Linked DNA regions of Homo sapiens: region 2 is linked to region 1. A link means that fine-mapping ties the variant in region 1 to the expression of a gene that starts in the linked region. Tissue or cell type: nasal epithelium. Region 1 holds a variant in brackets; the other region holds the start of a gene. All regions are shown on one strand. Distances are between the middles of the regions.

What was found. PIP is the estimated chance that this variant, and not a neighbour inherited with it, causes the effect.
Region 2: it holds the start of EGLN3-AS1, and the variant in region 1 is the best candidate, but not a certain one, in a credible set for the expression of EGLN3-AS1 in nasal epithelium (TOPMed, PIP 0.87).

The regions. Positions count from the first base shown.
Region 1 is chr14:34,005,991-34,017,426 of GRCh38, reverse strand. All of the region lies in intron 5 of LOC102724945 (a long non-coding RNA gene), which reads left to right. Among named protein-coding and RNA genes, the nearest start is that of EGLN3-AS1, 28 kb to the left of the region's middle. RefSeq lists an enhancer at 3,283-3,452. The variant G/A (reference allele first, on the strand shown) is at 4,849.
Region 2 is chr14:34,033,105-34,044,540 of GRCh38, reverse strand. It overlaps EGLN3-AS1 (EGLN3 antisense RNA 1), which reads right to left and starts at 4,560. Exons shown (of 3, transcript NR_184209.1): 1 at 4,371-4,560; 2 at 3,272-3,336. All of the region lies in intron 5 of LOC102724945 (a long non-coding RNA gene), which reads left to right. RefSeq lists enhancers at 484-778, 379-778, 1-1,105 and a silencer at 1,624-1,918.

The DNA.
Region 1 (11,436 bases):
TGATGCAATAGTGTTGAAATCTCCCTTTCCTTTTCTTTCTTCCTTTCTTTCTTTCTTTCTTTCTTTCTTTCTTTCTTTCTTTCTTTCTTTCTTTCTTTCTTTCTCTTTCTTCTTTCTTTCTTTCTTTCTTTCTCTCTCTCTCTCTTTCTTTCTTTTTTTGAGACATGATCTCACTCTGTCACCCAGGCTAGAGTGCAGTGGCACAATTGTGGCTCACTGCAACCTTGAACTCCTGGGCTTATGCTACCCTCCCACCTCAGCCTCCCAAAGTGCTGAGATTACAGGTGCATGCCACTATGCCTGGCTCCCTTTTCATTTAATGTATTATAAACATTAAATATTCCTCTGCCTCCGCGTAGTGTTCTGCTGTATAAATGTTTTATAACATACTTAAGCAACCCTCTATTTTTGGATATCTAGGCTGTCTCCAAGTTTTTGATAATGTTTTTGATAGCTGTCTAATGAGCATCCTTGTAGCTATATCTTTGAGCATATCTGTGATTATTTCTGAATAAATTTCTAGATATCTAGTCATTGAATCAAAGAATATGCACCCATCTAAGGCTTTAAAACACACATGACTCTGTGTCTGTGTGTGTGTGAGTGTGTGTGTATCACATAGGAAATAAATATTAGAAATCACATATTCAGATATGCTTATGGCTGCCAGAGTTTTGCGCTTCCTGGTTGTTGTTCATCCTTAATGTAATGAGAATAGTAATGGGGAACAACGGATGTTATATTCTCTCTCTCTGGTATGAGGTATGCTGGGAATTCCATGAAGACCATTTCTTCATGGTCCATTCCATTTCTTCATTCCATGAAGAACCTTCAGGAACATTCTTCCGTAGATTCTTAATGAAGCTAAACATTGTTTCAAATGATTATTGTCCACTAAATATAAATAAATATAAATATATTTATAATATTTATTATGTATCTAGATAAATACATATACATATATTTGTATATGTTCATATAAATAATACTTATATAATATATGTGTATATATAATAAATTTGAATCAATACCTTTTAGAAGGTATATATGTAGATGTATATATACACACACGCACTCACACTACATTTATACTAGCAGTGTATATCCTTGCACTTATTTTTATATACATTCCCCAACATTAAGTATTTAAAATTTTTCTTTCCAATTGCTCTAGTGAAAAATGACATCTTATACTTGTTATAATTTGTACTCCTTAGATTCTTAATGAAGTTTAATGTTGTTTCAAATGATTATTGGCCATTTCAAAATTATTTATGTCCTTTGACATAATTTTTTTCTTGTTTATCTTTTCATTAATTTGTAAGATTTTAAACAATTGAATATGGCTATTAGTTCTTTGTTATCTTTTTTATTTGAGTTAAACAAAAAACTCCACTGAAATGAAAGTGATGCACATTTTTCTTTAAAAGAAGAGCAATTCAATTTTAACTTTAAAAGAAGTTAAAATCAGTTACAGGTAAACAAAGCGTACCCCTGACCGCATACACCTGGTGTGTATATAGGTTTAACTTTGTACATTCCTGAGTTGCTTTCTGGAAAACACTTCCAAATGAAAAGCCAGATACCATCATCTTTACAAGTAACTGTGATGTTATTTTGAGATAAATTATTACTTTAAGTTAAACAAAGGAAAATTACCATTTTTGAGCATTAGCCAATCTTATAATCTCCCTTTCCAAAGAAGCTTAATTCAAACTATTTTTAAAGGTTAGTTTATGCTTTCTTTTAATTCAGCGGCTTCATGGGTGCCATATTTTTTCTCCATTTTAGCAGTAATCTAAATTGAGACAAACATAGGTCAGAATTTTGAACTCAAAGATAAATAAAAGGAATTCCAAAGACTGAATGATCTGCTAGACTGGCCGCTTTAGTAAATTTTGATGTTTGATACCATATTCCTCTTCTCCAGGAGAATGTCATGAACCTGGGAGGCAGAGCTTGCAGTGAGCCAAAATTGTGCTACTGCACTTCAGCCTGGGTGACAGAGTGAGACTCCATCTCAAAAAAAAAAAAAAAAAAAAAAAAAGAATTGTGAAATGTATGTGTAATTTTAAAAAATTATAATAGTAATTACTTCTTTTTAGTCACTGGCAGTAAGTCTCTTATTAACTAATGGAGATAATGATGGCAACTTCTTAACCCAAAAAGTAATTAAACGGCTCTGTTAAGTCCCCCTAATCTGGAAGAGGTCTGCTATCTTTACGCAGAGCAACACTGTCACTTGTTTCCAGATTGTGGGGTGAGAGTGAGGATAATTCTTTAAGTGATGAAGTTGGTTGTTTCCCATCTGTTGTGCCTCAGACACAGGCCTCCTTCTCTCTACCAATCACAAATATAAAACCTCTGCCCATAATTTGACCATCTGGATTTCCTGTCATCCCCTGTTTTCACACCTGGAGATTCAGAGCAGTTCTTTGATTGATGTTTTTCAAAATTGCCTCATAAAATCAAAGGACAGGCGAACAACATTTTTCTAAAATTGTAAACAGTAGAACCAACATTCAAAACTTTTGTTACTGCTTTTATAACCGTGAATAACCTTAGCTTCTGGGATTTTGTCAGAAGTGCTTTTTTTCTTTCTCTGAAGCAAGCCACCACATTCTCCCGAGCTGCTTGCATTTAACAATGTCAGGACTAAGATTCAAGTAGTGGGCCACGGTAGTCCCAGGAAGTTCAATATCAAGCACAATGAGTTCTGTATTCAACTTTAATTAAAATATCCACATGCAGCAGGGCGTGGTGGCTCACGCCTGTAATCCCAGCACTTTGGGAGGCTGAGGCAGGTGAATCACCCGAGGTCAGGAGTTGGAGACCAGTCTAGCCAACATGGTGAAACCCTGTCTCTACTAAAAATACAAAAAAAAATTAGCTGGACATGGTTGTACGAGCCTGTAATCTCAGCTACTTGGGAGGCTGAGGCAGGAGAATCACTTGAACCCAGGAGGCGGAGGTTGCAGTGAGCCAAGACGGCGCCACTGAACTCCAGCCTGGGCAACACAGCGAGATTCCGTCTTCAAAAAAACAAAACCAAACAAAACAAAATCCACATGCTCATGGTTTGCCTTCTCTTAGGGAGCCAAATACTACCTAAGTTTTGTCAGCTGGCAGGCTCTGCTAATAGAATGTCACTTAAAACACCACTTTGAATCTAAGGGCAATGCAATGCATTATTCTGAACTATTACTAAATTAGTTATTCCTCAAGCAGCAATTTGCCTATTTTTGCTCTTACCTAATTTTTAGGAGGAATGATAGACAAACATTAAGCATTGGTTTCTCTCTAGATCCCGTCAGTTTCCTCAAACACAGTAGTCTCCTCTGTTAGACCCTGGTGTGCTGCTGGGAATTACTGGGACTCACTGGCCAGCTGCTGTCTCTTCTCTGCGGACCTCTTTGCTTTTAGGGAGCAGGAAACTAATTCCTCTAAGTGTTATACACTTGGAGACCCTTTAGCATGAACAACGGTGAAGAAACAGAAGCTCTCGTTGCTTTCCTGCATCAGACAAAAGGCTGTGGCCACTTAAATACCACATTTTTACTTCCTTTTTAGTTCAGTTGAGGGAGCAGGTGCAACCCTGCAGCAAGATAAAGCTGACCCTTGCTAAGATTGTAGTGTCTGCTAAATGTACGCCAGCAAGGCAAGGCCTTGTAAACAATAATTAATAAATTTGAAAGGCCCAGGACACGAGAAGAAAATTAAATACAAGATTTGGACCATCCACTTTGACTCATGTGGCATTGCTAATCAGTGTGATGAAAAAAACCTTCATCTGTTAAGAATGTGGCATTTGAAACACATTGCTGCCTTGTTGGTAGGTTTACTTCCTCCTTTCTTTGTAAAGCTTCACAATGAGTATCCCAGTGTGAAACTGGAACTCAGTGTGGGGAAAGAGGACGGGTGGAGGAACCGTCATGTTATTAAGTTATTGCAAATATAGAGACTGGTGATTTCACACGTACACATTCCACATTACAGGAAGCTCACACGTCTAGGAAAAATCATCCCTTGTTGACCCCTCACCGCCAAATTTTCCATTACCTACCTCGAAAATCTCAACGTCCCAAATGGCTTGCTTATTTTTATCATGTCAATTGCTTTTCTATAGTAAAGTAAGAATACGGTCACTTGAATTTCAAGAATAAGAAAGCAATCTACATGAATTAAACAAATCTAAAGGACAAAAGAGATTTTTTCTGAGTCACTTGCAGATGATGATGTTCCTCCTTCACTCCACAGAGCTTCCTTAGTGATTGTCAAAAAACAAAAAAGAAACCAAAGTAACCTTGAGGTAGGGCCGTGGAAAATTTTACCCACTTCATTTGTTCACAGTTGTTCATTCCTTCTCATTTCTTTTCATTTTTTTAATAGAAAATGTTTACTTCTAACTTACTTTTCTAGTATAATAAGTAATCTCTAAACAAAAGCTTATAAAAATTCAAACACTGGCCGGGCGCAGTGGCTCACGCCTGTAATCCCAGCACTTTGGGAGGCTGAGGCGGGCGGTTCACTTGAGGTCGGACATTCGAGACCAGCCTGGCCAACATGGTGAAACCCCGTCTTTACTAAAAATACAAAAAATTAGCCATCCGTGTTGGTGCATGCCTGTAATCCCAGCTACTCGGGAGGCTGAGGCAGGAGAATCACTTGAATCTGGGAGGCGGAGGCTGTGGTGAGCCAAGATCAAGCCATTGCACTCCAGCCTGGGCAACAAGAGCAAAACTCTGTCTCAAAAAGAAAAGAAAAAAAAATTCCAACACTATAAAGGTATGTAAATTAAAAACCATCCACTTCCTGCCCCATCCTGCTTACCTCCCCGGAGTAATCGCT[G/A]TTGATCTTTTGGTGTGTGTTCTTCCAGCCACGTTTACTTTTTACATGTTTGGTAAGGCAGAGTCTGTGAGGGCTCCTATGAATCCTTGACAACACAGTAAGGAAGGACAGGCAGCTGGGTGGGGTTGCTTATGCCTCTCGTCTCAGCCCTTTGGGAGGCCAAGGCAGGACTGATTGCTTGAGGTCAGGAGTTTGAGACAACTCGAACAGCCTGGGCAACATAGTGAGACCCATATCTTTACAAAAAAAAGTTTTTTTAATTAGCTGGGCATGGTGGCATGTGCCTATAGTCCTAACGACTCCAGGGGCTGAGGAAGGAGAATCACTTGAGCCCAGGAGTTCAAGGCTGCATTAAGCTATGATGAATCTCCAGCCTGGGTGACAGAGTGAGACTCTGTTTCTAAAACATAAAAAAAATAAATAAAGGAAACACAGGCAAGGAAGGAACTGACTATGAATGGGCATATTTACAAAAAAAATTCATGAAGTAAAGGGGAAGGGAGGAAAGAGAGAGTTGAACTGGGGAAGAGAGAGATGAGAAGAAAGATGTACCTGCTTTCTCCTGTCTTGGGGAGTCAGCTCCTTGAGGGTAGGATTTCTGTCTTAAGCAGCTTCTTCTTCACACTAGAAGAATACCTACTAACTAGGTGGTGATGAATGAATGAATACGAATGAAGAGCAGGAACTAACTGGCTACTGTTAGCAGAGTTCACGGAAATAATTTTAGGCTTTTTCAGTTTATCAAAGCCTTGTTAAGCCGGTATTTTCTGTCTTTACCTTTGATTTTTCGTCAGTAAGCAACCAGCATGTGCTGCTTTCAGGGTTAGTACCACAAGTAGTTGTTGCTCTAAATTGAGCTAATATTAAAGATAAAAACCCTTCTAGAAGGAATCTGTACTCAGAAAAGGAAGTTTTAAACCATTAGCTCACTGGGGGATACTACTTGAAACATCATTAAGACAAAGTAGCTTCCAGGCCCACTGCCTCCTTTTGGGGAAAAGGGACCACAGGGAATTCTCTAGCCTTCGATATCCACTTCCCCCACCATTTTGGCGACGAATGGTTGAACCAGGAATTAACAACTGACCAAAAGACACACTGCTTTAGGCTTTTAGCCCCTAGGAGGTGGCCTAAGGTGGCACTGGATAGGGACTTTCTGAACCAGTCAAAGCCACTCTTGGGGGATTTGAACTAGGGACAGAGATGAACAGAGAGTTAGAGAAAAGCAGACAACTGATAGACAGCAGTCCAGTGTTGACACAGAAACTGAGAGACGTGGAAAGAAGGCAGTGAGCAGACACTATGAAGCAAGTAATGACTTCAGTAGAAGAGGATATGAATGGAGGCATAGAAAGGCATCTGCTAGCAGAAGATTAAGAAGAAGCAGCAAGTAGAGAAAGGACTCAGTGGAGGAGATGCTTCAGAAATGGCAGGCTGCTGGAGAAACTGCTGCTTCATCCTGAACCACGTTCCAGTTCTCCATGAGGCCTCACATGTAGCCCCAGAAACCATTTTCTTTGCTTCCTCAAGCCTCCTAAGTATCTTTATCCTGGAGTAAACGAGAAGGTCTCCATATTTTGCAACTTGAAAAACCCCCGTTCTAAAACGAGCAGGTTGTCTAGAGAGAACCATGAGCGTCCCTTCTGTTGTAATTTGAGAGGAGTATTGTAAAAAGACACATAGACCACCTGTGGGGAGCTTCACATGGTGGCCAGTGCTTTGCTGGGGTGACCACAATTCAGTTCTTGTTTTTTGCATTGTAGCTCTTGAAATTTGATTTAATCTGTGCAGCCAGTGTTGACTTACCCCAACTAGGAGATTTATAGATAATCTAATATGCAGATGTATAATGTGAGGCCAAACTTTCCAGACATAGGGATCTCTTTCTATAGTTTTTGATACTGTTGAATATCTTCTTATCAAAACTCTCGTTAGAGTTTTTACCGTTTTTCTTTTTTTTTTTTTTTTTTAGCATTACTTCTCTTTTTCCACTTTTGGGACCAAAAATATATCTAATTCTTGCTGTTTGTCCTTCATCTGCCTTTATTATCTCCTTGTTCTCCTTGGAAATACCCTCCACTGCCATGGTTCTCCTCTACCCCAGTGATATCTATCCATACAGCCCTCTCCACTCTAACACCCTGCCATATTTTCAAATCTCCAGGGGACATATTCACCTGAAAATCTCATCAGCCTCTCGAATTTAATGAGTTCAAAATGGAAATTATTTTCTTTCTCCGCAAAATTCTTCCTCCCGTGTTCCAACCCCTTCTCTAAAAATAGAACCTCAGTGAGCCAGTCCAAAGCTCGGGATTCTTTTTACTTCTTTTGCAACTCTATACCCAATAGCTATGATCACAAAGTCCTGGCAATTCCACCTATATAATATGAATTTCATTCATCTCTCTCTGTGTTCATTACGCAATGTGCATAGCAAATTGTGCCAAAACTTGGCAGCTTAAAATATGTCCATTATTTCATACAGGTTGTGAAGGCTGGGAATCTGAGAGTGGCTTAGCTTAGCTGATCTCTCATGAAGTTGTAGGCAAGTTGTTATCTGGGGCTGCAGTCATCTTAAAGGTTGACTACGGATGGAGAACCACTTTTAAGATCACTCATGATCAATGCCATTTTTTATAGAATTAGAAAAACTGGCCAGGCCGGGTGGCTCATGCCTGTAATCTCAGCACTTTGGGAGGCTGAGGTGAGTGGATTGCTTGAGCCCAGGAGTTTAAGACCAGCCTGGGCAACATGGCAAGACCCTATCTCTAATATTATTTTAAAAATTTTAAAAACTATTTTAAAATTCATAGGGAACAACAACAAAAAGAGCCCAGATAGCCAAAGCAATCCTAAATGAAAAGAACAAAGCCAGCAGCATCACATTATTCAACTTTAAACTACACTACAAGGCCACAGTAACCAAAACAGCATGGTGCTGGTAGAAAAATAGAGACATAGACCAATGGATCAGAATAAAGAAGGCAGAAATAATGCAGCATACCTGCAACCAATGGATCTTCAACAAAGTCCACAAGAAAAAGCAATGAGGAAAGGACTCCTAGTCAAGAAATAGTGCTGGGAAAACTGGCTAGCCACATGCAGAAGAATGATACTGGACCCTTATGTTTCACCATATACAAAAATTAACTCAAATGAATTAAAGACTTTGTAAGACCTCAAACTATTAAAATCCTAGAAGAAAACCTAAGAAATACTCTTCTGGACAATGGCCTTGGCAAGGAATTTATGACCAAGTTCTCAAAAGCAATTGCAACAGAACCAAAAATTGACAAGTGGGACCTAATTAAACTAAAGCTTCTGCATAGCAAAATAACCCATCAACAGAGTAAATAGAGAATCTATAGAATGGAAGAAAATATTCATATACTATGCATCTGACAAAGAATTAATATCCAGAATCTGTGAAGAACTTAAACAAATCAACAAGGAATAAATAACTCCATTAAAAAGTGGGCAAATCGGGAGTTTGAGGTTGCAGTGAGCCATGATCATACCACTGCATTCCAGTCTGGATAACAGAGCAAGACCCTGTTTAATTAAAAAAAAAAAAAAAAGTGAGCAAAGGTCATGAGCAGACACTTCTCTAAAGAAGACATACAAGTGGCCAAAAAATATGAAAAAATGCTCACCATCACTAATTACCAGATAAATGCAAATCAAAACCACGATGAGATACCATCTCACGTTAGCCAGAATGGCTATTATAAAAAAGTAAAAAAAAAACAAAACCCAGCAGATTCTGGTGAGGCTGCAGAGTGGGAACATAAATTACTTCAGCCACTGTGGAAAGCAGTTTGGAGTTTTCTCACAGAACTTAAAACTAAACTACCATTCAACCGTGCAATCCCATTACTGGGTATACACCCCAAAGAAAATAAATCGTTCTACCAAAAAGACGTATGCACTCGTATGTTCATCTTGGCACTGTTCACAATAGCAAAGACATGGAATCAACCTAGGTGCCCATCAATGGCTGATGAGATGAAGAAAATATGGTATATATACATCATGGAAAACTACACAGCCATAAAAAGAATGAAATTATGTCCTTTGCAGCAACACGGATGTGGCTGGAGGCCATTATCCTAAGCGAATTAACATAGAAACAGAAAACCAATTATCTCATGTCCTCACTCATAAGTGGGAGCTAAATCTTGGCTACACGCAGACATAAGATGGCAACAATAGACGCTGGGGACTTCAAAGTTTGGGGGGTAAGGGCTGGAAAACTTTCTATTAGGTACTATGTTTACTATTTGGGTGACACGACTAGTAGAAGCCCGAACCTCAGCACCAAGCAAAATATCCTTGTAACAAACCTGCACATGTACTCTCTGAATCTAAAATTAACATGGAAATTAAAGAAAAAAAATCACTCATTGTTGTAAGCAGATCTCAGTTCCTTCCTGGCTATTGGCTGGAGGCTTCAGTTCCTCACCATGGACTTCTCTACAGGGCTTCTCACCACATGACAGTTTACTTTCCCCACTTGGGGAGGGGTAGTGGGAGAGGAGGAGGAGTGGGTTGGGGGAGAACGTATGTGCTCAGGGTGGTAGCTGCAGTCCTCTTTAGAACCTAATCTTGGAAGTCACACACTATTACTTTTACCATATTCTGTTTGTTAAAAGGAAACAGCTAAGTCTAGCCTACACTCAAAAAGAAGGAATTAAGTGAGAAGTGTCCTTATGGACATATTTTTGAAACTACCACCCCCTCTTCTTCATTTCTGCTTCTGTAATCCTCTTTCAGTCCCCATCATTTCTTACCGGTATTTGTGCTTGACATAAAGACCAAGATCCTTAATATCGCCTACAGGGTTCATGTTATGTCTGTTTCTGCATTGCCACTGTATTCTATTTATCTGTCAGTCTGTTTTTCTCTATTCCTGAGTCTTTTTCTCCCTGTCTATTTCACGTTCAAACTCCCCAAGAGAGAGGCATTGATTGGTTCTGGCAATAACTATCTGGTGTCACTCGAGGTCACCTTATGATGACCTGGCGGAGGAGTCTAAAGGAGCCTGTCTTTTGGCCAGGTGTTGATACCTGGCTCAATCAGTGTGGCCAAGGTGGTGGGTAATTTAACCCTGCCTAACACTTTCTTATCTCAAACCACAATCTCCCAGGCCCCTGGTTCTACCTCCACTGGCCTTTTCCCAGAAGGTTTGGAGTGTCATTTCCCCTCTTGCCACAGAGCCTATGCTCGTCCTGTTCTTCTGCCCAGCAAACTCTTCTCTCCAGCCCACTCGGCCCACTCCTGCATATCTTTACATCTCAGCCCGGTGTCACCTCTTCAGCCTGACTTCCTCACCCCTCCATCTACGTTAAGGTGTCTTACGAGCTCTCAGAACACTCTGCACTTTTCCTTCACAACTCTTATTCGTTCGGTTATTTAACATCTCCTTCCTCCTCTAACCTGAAGCTTCCATGAGGGCAGGGACCATTTTGCCCACAATGTCTGGCACTTGCTATGAACACAGTGATTATTTAAAACACAGGGAATAATTAGTGTTTCTCCAACATTCATGCTTCTCCCTGGCTCAAACACTCTTGGTGGTCCTCTAGCGCGTGCAGGACAGAGCCACAGCTCTTTGGCTTGGTATTCTTGGCCCTTTGGGTAATCCGGGCCCATCTTGCCTTTCTGGTTTCAGTTCTCAGCACTCCTTTTAACAGACCCAAAAGTCTTAACTGCAATGGATTAGTTGCTATTTCCAAAGCGCTCTTTATGCTTTACTCTCTGAATCTTTGCTCACATTGTGCCCTGAATCCTGGAATGAATTCTCCCCACTGGGATTATATCAAAATCTCTTTCTAGAAAAACTTTCACTGTGTTTTTTGTATATTGCTTTTTTTTTTAAAATATAAACAAAGTACTAATTTTAAGAACTTTTCTTACATTAGTTCATTTAATGATTATGACAGCCTACAAGATAAATCCACTTAGTATTCACACAAAGCTTAAATAACTGGTACGGATAAACACCTAGTATGTGTCATAGCTGGAATCGGAACCCAGGTGGTCTGGCTCCAGAGTGCAACTATGGAATCTGCATACTTTCTCTGCTCCTAGACTCTTACTCTTTGAGGGTGGAGGGGGTGTCTTATCCTTCATTTTTTTATCTCCCCTAGGGGCTCACTCCAAGTAGTTTCTAACTAATGTTTAATAAATTAATGACTAGAAACCAGTGCCTCAGGCAGAAAATGATGGAGGAAAGCTGCCTCTGTTCACAAAAAAGCACCTCGTTTTTACTTCTTTGGTTACAAACCCTCAGTCCTTCCTCCCTGGCTTTAAGTATGTAGTTTAATAACTAATGGTATTTTTTTCCTTTTTATGTTCTAAACTTTTTATTATGGGTATTTCCAAACAATGTAAAAATAATAGTATAACTTCCACACACATATCACCTAGCAGAACAATTAGTAACATTTTGCCATGTCTCCTGTACATTTTGCTGAATTAACTTAATTTGAATCATAGATATCATGACATTTCACTCTTAAAAACTCAGAAAATGATGAACTTTCCTTACTCAATTACAACACCATTTTAACCTACAAATTAACAGTA
Region 2 (11,436 bases), 27 kb before region 1:
GTGTTCTCCTTGCCATCATTCTGGAATTCCTCTCTCCTGCTCTCCTGGGTTGGATGCCCTGTGTTCTGGCACCCGTGTCTTCCTATGTCTTGGTTGACTTTCTCCAGTTTGTTGCACACATCCCTTTTAGTGGATGAAGAGATAAAAGTTGGTTTTGTTTCCAGATCAACATAAATTAACAAATGGAATTCATCTCATGTGGGATCCACCAATTCCCATTTTACTTTGTAGACTCAGGATTATGGTCAGATTTGTTTTTTTCCTCTAGATTCAGTAAGCCTTCTACACTTAAAAACTTTATCTGAAAATCCAAGCTGTGGCCATTGCAGGAAACAATAGCATAAAGTGTGCTCCATTTAAAGAAGAGGATAATTTGAACTAAGAGCCTTCAGTCCACTGAAAAGTGAGCTCTGGAGACTCTGGTAGGTGATGTGCAGATTGTCACGTGTGCTGGCCTCACACAGCTCTTTCTCACACCTCTGCCCTCCATGTGGCCTGTGGGCTGTCAGATGTGGCTCAGAACTTTGTTTGCCACACTTCATTTGAGCACAAAGTATAGGGCTTGGACAGGTGTTGGGGACTTCACGGTGGCTTCTGAAATGGTTTCCCAGAAAGGCAGTGACTCATCCCAGGAAACCCTTTTGTTTTCTTTCTGACCTTCCCCCAACTTCCTGCTCCACCTATCTGTGCATGAGTTTTCACATTCCTCACCAAGAGACAGCAGCTCACCTCTAACTTTAGTCAACAGTGGTGACTGGAGACAGTTCTGGGAGTAAGACAAGGACACCCCTTCTGACAGTAACGTCCATGAGGGTACTAGGTTTTTCCTCCATGTCTTGGCATCTCCCCTTTGAGGCATGTGTTAGTTTCCATTCCATGACCCTTAGAGAATCCCTTTTCCAACGTCCTTAATCAGAGTAGATTGGAACATTATAAAAGACACAGGTTTGGCTGGGCACGGTGGCTCACGCCTATAATCCCAGCACTTTGGGAGGCTGAGGCAGGAGGATCATGAGATCAGGAGATCAAGACCATCCTGGCCAACATGGTGAAACCCCATCTCTACTAAAAATACAAAAATTTATTTGTATTTTTGTGTGGTGTGGTGGCGTGTGTCTATAGTCCCAGCTACTTGGGAGGCTGAGGCAGGAGAATCACTTGAACCCGGGAGGTAAAGGTTGCAGTGAGCCGAGATAGCGCCACTGCACTCCAGCCTGGGGACTCCTCCGTCAAAACAAAACAAAACAAAAAACCCCCACAGGTTTGCCCTCTTAGCCCTTGCTTTAATGTGGGATTACTTTTGCACAACACAACTCTTTTTCTAGAAAATATACATCACTATATATTGAGTAACCGATATTCAATATTTTTGGATTGATGTGAGCTAACTGGAGAGGAGGTTTGTAGTTGCTGACCCACTGTGCTTCAGACATAGCCAAGAAGTTCGAGGCTAGCCTGGGCAACATAGTGAGACCTCATCTATACAAAAAAATAAAAAACATTAGCTGGGTGTGGTGGGACACGCCTATAGTCCCAGCCAGTTGGGAGGCTGAGGTTGGAGAATCTCAGCTGAGGTCTTCAATAGATATATATTGGCATGAATTATACAATTCAAATTCCTGTATGTTAAAAGGGATCTTAAAGATCACCCAGTGCTCCTTTTCCATTTGGAAGACAAGGATCCTGAGGTCTAAAGAAATTGCTTTCTCATGGCTGCCCAGCCATGTCCTTGGCCTTATTGGTCCTGGCCCTTCTAAGGCTACTACTCACACCTGCCTGTGTGCTGCTCTCCCGTTGAACTCCAGTCCCTCCTATCTGCACTTCTTCACTCTGCACCTCAGGGTATAGTTCTCAGGCTGCAAAAACCCCTTGGCAAAGTCCTACCCTTCCTTTGCCACTGGCTTCCCTGAAGCCCCCTCCCTGGTTCTAGGCTTCTCTCTAGACTGCAGGCAAATTCAGATTGGTGATTTTGGTTTCCTTCTGCTGAGAATCCATGACTTCCCATGAAGGATATGTTTCAAAATAATTCTTGAAAACTCGAATAGGAAAATGCTCACTAAAGAAATTTTGAAGAAGACACAAAAAGGTGATGTTTAGCTTTTCTGGTATTTCTTTGGGCATTTCTCCACTAGATCCCCTTCCTCCTAAGCAATAGGTTGTTTGTATTTTTTATTATAATCCTCACCTTACTCATTCAATTTTGTGTCCTGCTATTTTCCCTTTGTGCTCTTTTAGTGTAACTTTATGACAGATGGATTGGGAACAAACACACTTTTTAAAAGGAAACTTCTGTAGACTACTGCCACCTATTTATAAAAATAGGTTCTAGGCTGGGTGTGTCTGTAATCCCAGCACTTTAGGAGGCCAAGGCAGGAGGATCACTTGAGGCCAGGAGTTCAAGCCTAGCCTGGGCAACATAGGGAGACTCCATCTCTATAGACAAAAATTTTAAAATATTAGCTAGGAGTGGTGGCACACACCTGTGGTCCCAACTACTCAGGAGGCTGAGGTGGGAGGATCACTTGAATCTGGGAGGTCAAAGCTGCAGTGAGCTGTGATCACGCCACTGCACCCTAGCTTGGGCGACAGAGTGAGACCTTGTCTTAAAAAAAGAAAAAAACAAAAAAAAGGAAAATAGGTTTCTTTACTTTTTGGTAGTGCAAACAACAATGTGCACATTCAAGGCTAGTGTTTGGAGACAGGAGCCATGCTCCATATGCCTCTACATCTTCCAGTCTTCCCCACCGCTCCTTTGGGGGAGTTGGGGGTTGCATTCTCTGTTATTGCCAATGGGGCCTGTGTTTTCTAATAGTCTATGAGTCAGAATCCTTCCTCTGTCACCATATCCATATTCAATCCTGTCTTCTAGTCTCCATGATGGGAACTTGAGAGCCTCAGCACCATCTTGACCTGTCTGTCATCTCTTTGATCTCTCATTTACTGTCAGTCTGTTGTAAAACTCTGCAGCCTTGATACCTGCATACCCCATAACTCTGTGAAAGCAGGAACCGAGTCTTCCCATAAGCCTTAGATCTGTCTCTTTATCCCCAGTGTGATGTCAAGCATAGAGAAGACACTGATACATGTATGGTGACTGAATGAATGAATGCACGAATGAATGATATAATTGCAGTGCAGAGTAGTCTTCCCTTCTAGTGATTCCAAAAGCAAAATCAAGACTGGAATAGTAACATTCTCTTCAGTGCATTTACTACCACAAGTGCAGAAACAAACAATAGGAAACTGAGAATCAGAATGGGTTGAGATTTACCTTGGATGCAAATGATGGTTTCTGGTTTCTCAAGCCTCTTTCTCTCTCCTCACAGCCCACAGTCCCTGGGAATTACAAAATTCTTTTTATCATTAAAGAATATTAAATGGCTATTTTTTCTTTAATTAACTGTCCTTAATTTTGAGACCAAAGAAAAGGTTTATTTCCCAAGATAGCAGCAGCAAGCTCTGCTCTAAGGGAAAGCCCACATTTTTTATAAACTTTCCTTAACACCTCAAAATTTTAGTCCCAGGGTAACCTTGCTTGAGATGTAAAATTGCTATAAGTGAAAAACTACTTACTCAGCAATATAAAAGAATGAACAATTGATACATACCACAACATGAATGATTCTCAAAATAATTATGTTGAATTAAAGAAGCCAGACCCCCCCCATCCTCAAAAAGCATATATACTGCATGTTTCCATTTATATAAAATTATAGAAAATGCAAACAAATATATAATGAAAGAAAGGAGGTCAGTGCTTATCTTGTGGGTAGGGAAGGAAGAGCAGGGAGGCAGGGATGATAAAGGGGCACTGGGAAACTTTTTGGTGGTGATGGATGTGCCGGTGATGGTTGATTGTTGTGATGGTTTTGTAGGTGTGTGCCTGTGTCAACGCATATTAAATTTTATATTGTAAACACATGAAGTGTATTGGATGCCAATTATATGCCAATAAAGCTATTTTAAAAATTGCTTCTGGTGGAATAGAGTCTTAGTTTAGGCTGCTATAACAAACCACTATGGACTGGGTAGCTTCAATAACAGAAATTTATCTCTCACAATTCTGGAGGCTCAGAAGTCAGCAGATCCAGTGTCTAGTGAGGGCCCTCTTCCTGGATTAGAAATAGCCATCTTCTCTTTGTATCCCCACATGGCAGAAACCAGAGAGAGAGCATCTCTGTCATGTCTTTTCTTATAAGGGCTCTAATCCCATTCAAGAGGGCTCCACCATAATGATATAAAAACTTCTGGAGGCCCCACCTCCAAATACCATGACATTGGGGATTTAGGTTTCAACTTATAAATTTGGTGAGGGAGACACAAATATTCAGTCCATAGCAGAGTCCTGCCCATCACCCTATATGTCCTACCTCATTTTCCAGCTTCCCGCCACTAAAGGATGATCATCCCCGATTTTGTTCCTCAAGTACAATCGGTCTTTTGCCATGGTAGACGCTGAGATTTAATTGCTTCCTCTGGAAGTACAGAAACTATTTTAACCGGGCTACTGTTCCCTCCTGGTTAATTCCCTGAGCCTCCTGAGTGCTGCAGACAAGTTTGTCCTCTTTTTCTATTTCACACCATTTTAAGGGTTGCCTCCCTCACAGTCCAGTGGCATGTTTTGGATAGACAGCAGCCGATTGGGCACCTGTATTACTGTCTGTCTGGGCCATGACTCACCAGCCCCAATGATAACAATCCTTAGACCTTTGACATGTTTTCAGGATGCTTTTCAAAATACCTATTGGTTCCACAAAGGAAGCCCTGAGACAGTGAGTGACCCACCAGTGTTTGCCTCTTCTTCTCTTGTGTATTTCTTTCATTACTCTCCAAGGTGCTTTAATATTAGGTAGTTCCAGATCAGCAGTAAGAAATGCAAACAAATACCCTCCTCAGAAGTTCAGCATTATTTTACTGTCTTTGAAATATTTTCAGAACTTAAGGGAGAATCAGGAATGAGTCCCTGGAATTATATAGATGTGGGACATCATTGACCAGCTGAGGTAATGACTGTTCTTCCATCTTGCAGAAACAACAGGTCAAGGCTCTGAGTGGTTAAGTAAATAGCTAAGACCTTGAGCTAGAGCAGGGAGACTCAAACCCGTGCTGGTTTGTGGACAAGGGAAGAAATGGAGAGCAATTGTTTAGAAACGTTCATAGCAATATGATGGAATAGTTTTATGACATAATAACAAAAAAGTTGAGCTTGTATTTTATATGCCTGTTATTTTTAACTCTTTTCTAATAATTCATTTTTGTTTATTCTACAAAATTGAGGATTCATAGTAGATTGGAAATTTTAGAAAAAATCAGCGGGCCCTTTATCACAGATTTCTTGAGAAGCACTCAACTAATTTCATGGTCTCTGCAGGGCGGTTCTGGGTGCCTTCCTTCCAGTGAAGATCATGAGTACCTTCCTTCCAATGGAGATGATGGGTGAACTGTGGAGAGATGGAGACAGTGCCAGGGAGGAGGATGTCCCCTTCATCTCTGGTTCCTTTTCCTTTTCCTCCACATGCATCCCTGGAGAAGCACTCCACCAATAGCAAGCAGAGTTGAGACTAGAATAGAGGAGAATGCAGTTAGAGAAGGGCTTGGAAATGGCAAGGTTGGCAGGAAAAGCTTTGTGGTTATCACCTAGCATGCTGACTTAGGCAAATGCCCTGTACTCTGGACCTCAGGAGCAGGTGGAGGAAGCAGCTGAGAAATATCTCACTAGTTTGGAATGAAGCTGGAATTGTGAGTTCCACTATGTTTAAGACGCTCGTATAACCTAAGAGGAGGGAAAAAAAGGCTGCCTGTCATCACCCTGTAGTGTGAGGCTAGACATCGACATATTCCGACGGAGTCACTGATCAGAGGAACTTCCCTTTAAAAACATGGAGGGATCAGCACACTGCACAGGTACATTGTAGTGAAAAGAGATGGGATCAGAAAAGGGCTGAGCCTAAGATGGCCTCATTATCTGTCTTAAAATGGGGAGATCCAAGCAGCTGAAAGGCATCAGGAAGATGTCACCATCTCATTTCACAGCTGTCTCTGCTGGTCCCTGTTTGCTTTTGTTTCAGTAAATCGTAGTGTGAAGTAATGTTCATGTTCCCAGGGGACATGGAACAGCCTACTGCCCTGCTTGCCTTTGAAGCAGTTAGCTGACAACACCTTCACTATCACATCTTCTGGAGAGGTGGCAGAAAGAGATGATGCCTTCCTTTTGTTGACTTTCATACATGATTATATGTCTGGACACTCTTACTGACATCAATGTGCTTGTTGACTGGGAGGACAGGATCAGGTTGAGTGGGTTCAGGCTTTTTACTATGAGAAAAGCTTTTGCTCTTTACTTCGGGAAATGAAGGAAACACCCAGCCCTCTTGCTTGTTTGTTAAATTAAAGGGTGACTTCTGCATCGTAAACTGCCCTGGAATATATCTTGGTTTTGACTTGGGTAATGATGCACACATGCCTCAGTGTGCCTGCCCTGTGGCCTTATTATTATTTAGTCTGACATGTTGGGATTTGGGAGAGGGTTGAGATTAGAGCTTAGGGCTTATGTTGGTTAGCACCATCATGGGAGGAAGGGCCTGCAGCATGGTGAGCTACAGTCAAAGAGAAGCAGAATTGGAAACTCAGCTACCTTTCCCTCTTGTGCTAAACCCAAGTTTGTGACAATGCAGTCAGAATTAGTTACTTTCGGGGAGGATTTGCAATATCTGGACCCAACTGCAGTAGCAGTAAAGAGATTGACAAAGGAGGGCAAGCATAACATGTAAACTATTCCCAATGAATGGTTTAGAAACTCGTAAAGCCAAACTGGCACTTTCTAGGGATGAAGTGACGGACCTACCGCGACTAGGGAGACCAGGCTGTGGTTCTAGGTGTTTAGCTCTCCCAGTTTGTCTGTCCTGAAATAGCCAGAAACAAAATTCAACCCAGTGTCACTGCTCCCCAAAATTTACAATCTTATTGGCTAATAAGACTGGCCCAGCATGAAACAATGGTAATAAGTGCAGATTGTGGCCAAGATGACAGGTAATAGAGTTGTGTCAAAATACAGGGGCTGACGTGGGTCAGAGGAGACAGGGAAGGCTCCTGGGAAAGTTGGACTTGAATTGGCACTGAGTCCTTCCCTCGTTTGGATTCAGATGGGGTTTGAGTCCTAGATTCACCAGGACTTACTTTGAGCAGGTATATAAGATCTCTGAACATCAGCATTCTCATCTACAAGATGGGGAAAATAGTAACAATGTCCTAGGCTTTTTGCGAGCATTAAATGACATAAAGTACCTAGCGATTAAGTGGTCAGTAATGTTAGATCATCCATTACTTCCATGGCTACAAAGAATTCCCTCTTTCTGGGACTGGCTCACGAATCTGGCCACAACATTCAAATTTGTAAGGCTGCTATTTCTGCCTGGGGTGAGGTGCCTGGGTGGTGGTGGGAGTGGGGAGTGGTATAAACAAACCATGAGCTGCTTTTCCTAACTATGTACCCAGTTCCCCTAACTGAATTACAAGTGTCTCTTTTTTTTTTTGGAGACAGAGTCTCACTCTGTCACCCAGGCTGGAGTGCAATGGCGTGATCTTGGTTTACTACAACATCTGCCTCCCAGGTTCAAGTGATTCTCCTGCCTCAAGCCTCCCAAGTAGCTGGGATTACAGGTGCCCGCCACCACACCCGACTAATTTTAGTATCACAAGTGTCTCTTAAACTAGAAAATCTAAGGCATAGCTTGCATTGAGAGGGATATTTTGTCCAAGTACTCACTTGGCTGAAAAGACCAGTTTTCATCACAAAGCTGATATCACATTTTTGAGCTGCTTGGCTTCCCTTCCTAGCCTCTCCTAATTTGTAAACATTTCTCAATTTTACTATACACAAAATAGGAAGTTATGAAATCCCAGCTCTGAGCTTGAGTGCTGTTCATTCTGGAAAAGCAGGCCTAGGAATCGGTTGATTTTAAACTAATTTTAATCAGTAAGAACTTGGTCATGAACCGAGAAGAAATATAGCATAATGGTTAGGAGCAGGGACTCTGGGTTCAGACCACCTGGACTTGCTTCCTGGCTCTGTCACCTTGCTATCTGCATGACTTTGGGTAAGGTATTTACTCTCTGTGCCTTAGTTTACTCATCTGTTAAATGGGAAAATAATGGTACACATCTCATAGTGTGGTTGTGATGAGTAAATTAGTCAACATATATGTGAAGTGCTTAGAGCAGTAAGTGGCTGATGTAAGTCCTAAATATGTGTTAGCCATCATTAATATCATTATGTCCTGGTGAAAAGGGGAGAGGGAAGGTTTAAGGCCCTGATGGATGCGGTCCCCCTAAACAAGAGGGCACTAAGAGAGCCAGCACCAGCTGGGCCTGGCAACAGTGGGAGGCAGGGAAAAGAATACTCTTAGGAAGGTATGGCCCAACTGCCAGATCCTAGTGAGAGAGCCCAGGTTGAATCAATGACAGGAATCTGCCAGCAGAGAACCCCTTTAGAATTTGACTGTCTCCATTCCAGAATTCTGGGCTTCCTGGGACATAGCCTCTCTGCCAGCCTGCCCAAAACCTTTTTCAGTAAGGATGACACACTTAGACAGGGCTGACTCAGTAACAGGCCCTTTGTTCTGTCTCCTGGACCTCTGGGTGCCACTGTCTGTACATGTCCAGCTTGGCAGGCAGCTGGCATCCTAAGGATTCAGGTCGTTATCAGCTGGACACTGACTAAACAGAGCCCCTCCCAGCCAAGTGATGTGTGAGGCAGTGCACGTAGGCCTGCATACCTCATATCTCTGCCCGGGCAATTACAACCCAACCACCCTGCCCCATTCCAAGGCAGCTGGAGCCAGCTAGGGCACAGCGTTTGGGGCAGAAGCCAGGTATTTTTCCTCCTTTTATCCTTTTTGATTCCGTAGGCATTTTCTTCTAAGCTCAGGATCTAACTGCAATGTCCCACATGGGAAAACAAACCTGAGAGGCAGGAACTAGGCCGTGTCTGCTCATGATGCTGCCTTTTACTGCTCTGAAATGGAGCCAAAAAAAGGCGCAGCCTCTGTCCTCCAGGACAGAAAAGCTAGAAGCAGTGTGTCCTTTCCCTAGCCGCTGTTTGCCTTTTGAGCATGTTGCATATACCCGCACATTAGTGGTGCACTGTCTAGTCTGGTGTTCAGATCTATATTTAAATACTACTGTGGGATTCAGAGTCCAAGTGTGTAAAGTGCAAGCCTGGGCTTGGCCAGGCATCAAGGTTTGCGGCCTACCCAGTGGGTCCTTAAAGCTGGCCTCTTGCATCAGAAGTGATCCCATGCACTTCTGATGACAGTTTGTGACAACTCCCTCTGGTTTGGGAAGTCTCCCTGTGCATGTTCTCTTATCTCAGCCGAGAGGACCACGTGTGAATATTAACAATTGGTACCATTTATTGGACGCTTGCTCTGCACCAGACAGTATGCTGAAGGTACTTTCTATAACAATTTCCTGTACCCATCTCCCATCCCCAGTGCTTCAATGGAGGTAGTGGATCAATTCTGCTTTACAGATGAGGACACTGAGATGCAGTGACATTAGGTAACTTAAGGTCACCCAAGTAGGAAGTGGTAAGGTCAATATATATATATTTTTTGAGACAGAATCTCACTGTGTCTCCCAGGCTGGAGTGCAGTGGGGGGTGCTCTGGGCTCACTGCAACCTCCACCTTCCAGATTTAAGCGATTCTCCTGCCTCAGTAGGAATAGCTGGGATTACAGGCGTGGGCCACCATGCCTAGCTGATTTTTGTATTTTTATTAGAGACGGGGTTCACTATGTTGGTCAGGCTGGTCTCGAACTCCTGGCCTCAGGTGATCTGCCTGACTTGGCCTCCCAAAGTTCTGGGATTACAGGCATGAGCCACCGCACCCGGATGGACCAGTACTTGGACAGTTTGATCCAGAGCATGTTCTGCAGCATCTCTCTGCTTGTGTCTCTCCAACAATTAAACCAATGCCTGGGAATTATCATCCTCATTGTGATGATTTTTATCAGCCAGCAGGGGCCAGAAGCTTCTATGTGGTGGACGCATTTGGCTAATTTGCTGTGCCGTTGGTGATAGGGAGAATAACACACACAAAAAAATTGAGTTATTTCCTTACTGATTTCTATTAGTTTGATTCAACAAATATTTAGTGAGCATTTGCATTGTGCAAGGCAGAACTAGCAAAGAGGGCTGCTACAAGGTAATTGCTTTCAAAGAGCTGGCACTCTAGAAAGAGAAATTGTCTTTCCAAATTCCCAAGATGGCCCACAAGGCCATCCTCTTCAGTCTCTTAAGGGCCGTCCTCTTCAGTCACATTGCTCTGCATTCCCCTCCTTTGTCTGAAGCCTCCTCCAAGTCCTTTTGTTTGGGGAGCTCCCTACTAGCCCAGGGCCTTGCACCTTCTGTTCATCAGCCTGAAATACTTCACACCTCTGCCTGGTTAACTCCTCATCCTTCAGGGGATTCTCTCCCACTCCCATAGAATAGGTCAGGTTCTCCCCTCTCATCTCATCACAGGTCCCTCTACTTTTAATTTTTGCAATTATTTGATTAATCTGTTACTGATGAGGGCACAGATGCTTTTGTTGTTCACCCCTGTATTCCCAGCACATAATAGGTGTTTGCTAAATATTCTTAAGGGAATGAAGATTACAGATTATTTATTCAAGCAAAAACTGGGGCATGTTAGTCCCCAGTCCCCCAAGAAGCAGACATCAAGACAAGATCAAACATGGCAGGATTTTAGTAGTGTGAAAGTCTACGAGAAAGTGGCAAGGGAGCTAAAGGAAGGTAAAACAGTCGTCACACTGTAAGTCTGATCCTAGAGTGAAGAAAGGAAGGCTGAGTGGAGTGTTGTGTTTTTTTTTTTTTTCCTTGAGACGAAGTCTCACTCATTGCCCAGGCTGCAGTTGAGTGGAGTGATCTCAGTTCATTGCAACCTCTGCCTTCCAGGTGCAAATGATTCTCCTGCCTCAGCCTCCTGAGTAGCTGGGACTACAGCCACACACCACCATACCTGGCTAATTTTTGTATTTTTAGTAGAGATGGGGTTTTGCCATGTTGGCTAGGCTGGTCTCGAACTCCTGAGCTCAGTTGATCTGCCCGCCTCAGCCTCCCAAAGTGCTGGGATTACAGGCATGAGCCACCGCACCCAGCCTGGGTGGAGTGCTTTATACCTTCCTCTGCAGTCTGAGGAAAGTTTGGCAAGGCCGTGGAGGACTTTAGGCCAGACAAAGTCAACTGAAGGTTGGGAGCCCATAGGAGGTGGGACCTGGCCCTGGGCTTCCGGAGCTCAGCACCTGAGGCGCTCTGTTAATTACGCACTCCTTGTGGATGGAAGGCTGGGGGCTCATTCTCCTGGCTGCCACGTGGGGGTTCTGAGAGGCGAGAGGAGGTGGCTTCTGGTGTATAGAAGGAGAAAAATTACCAAAG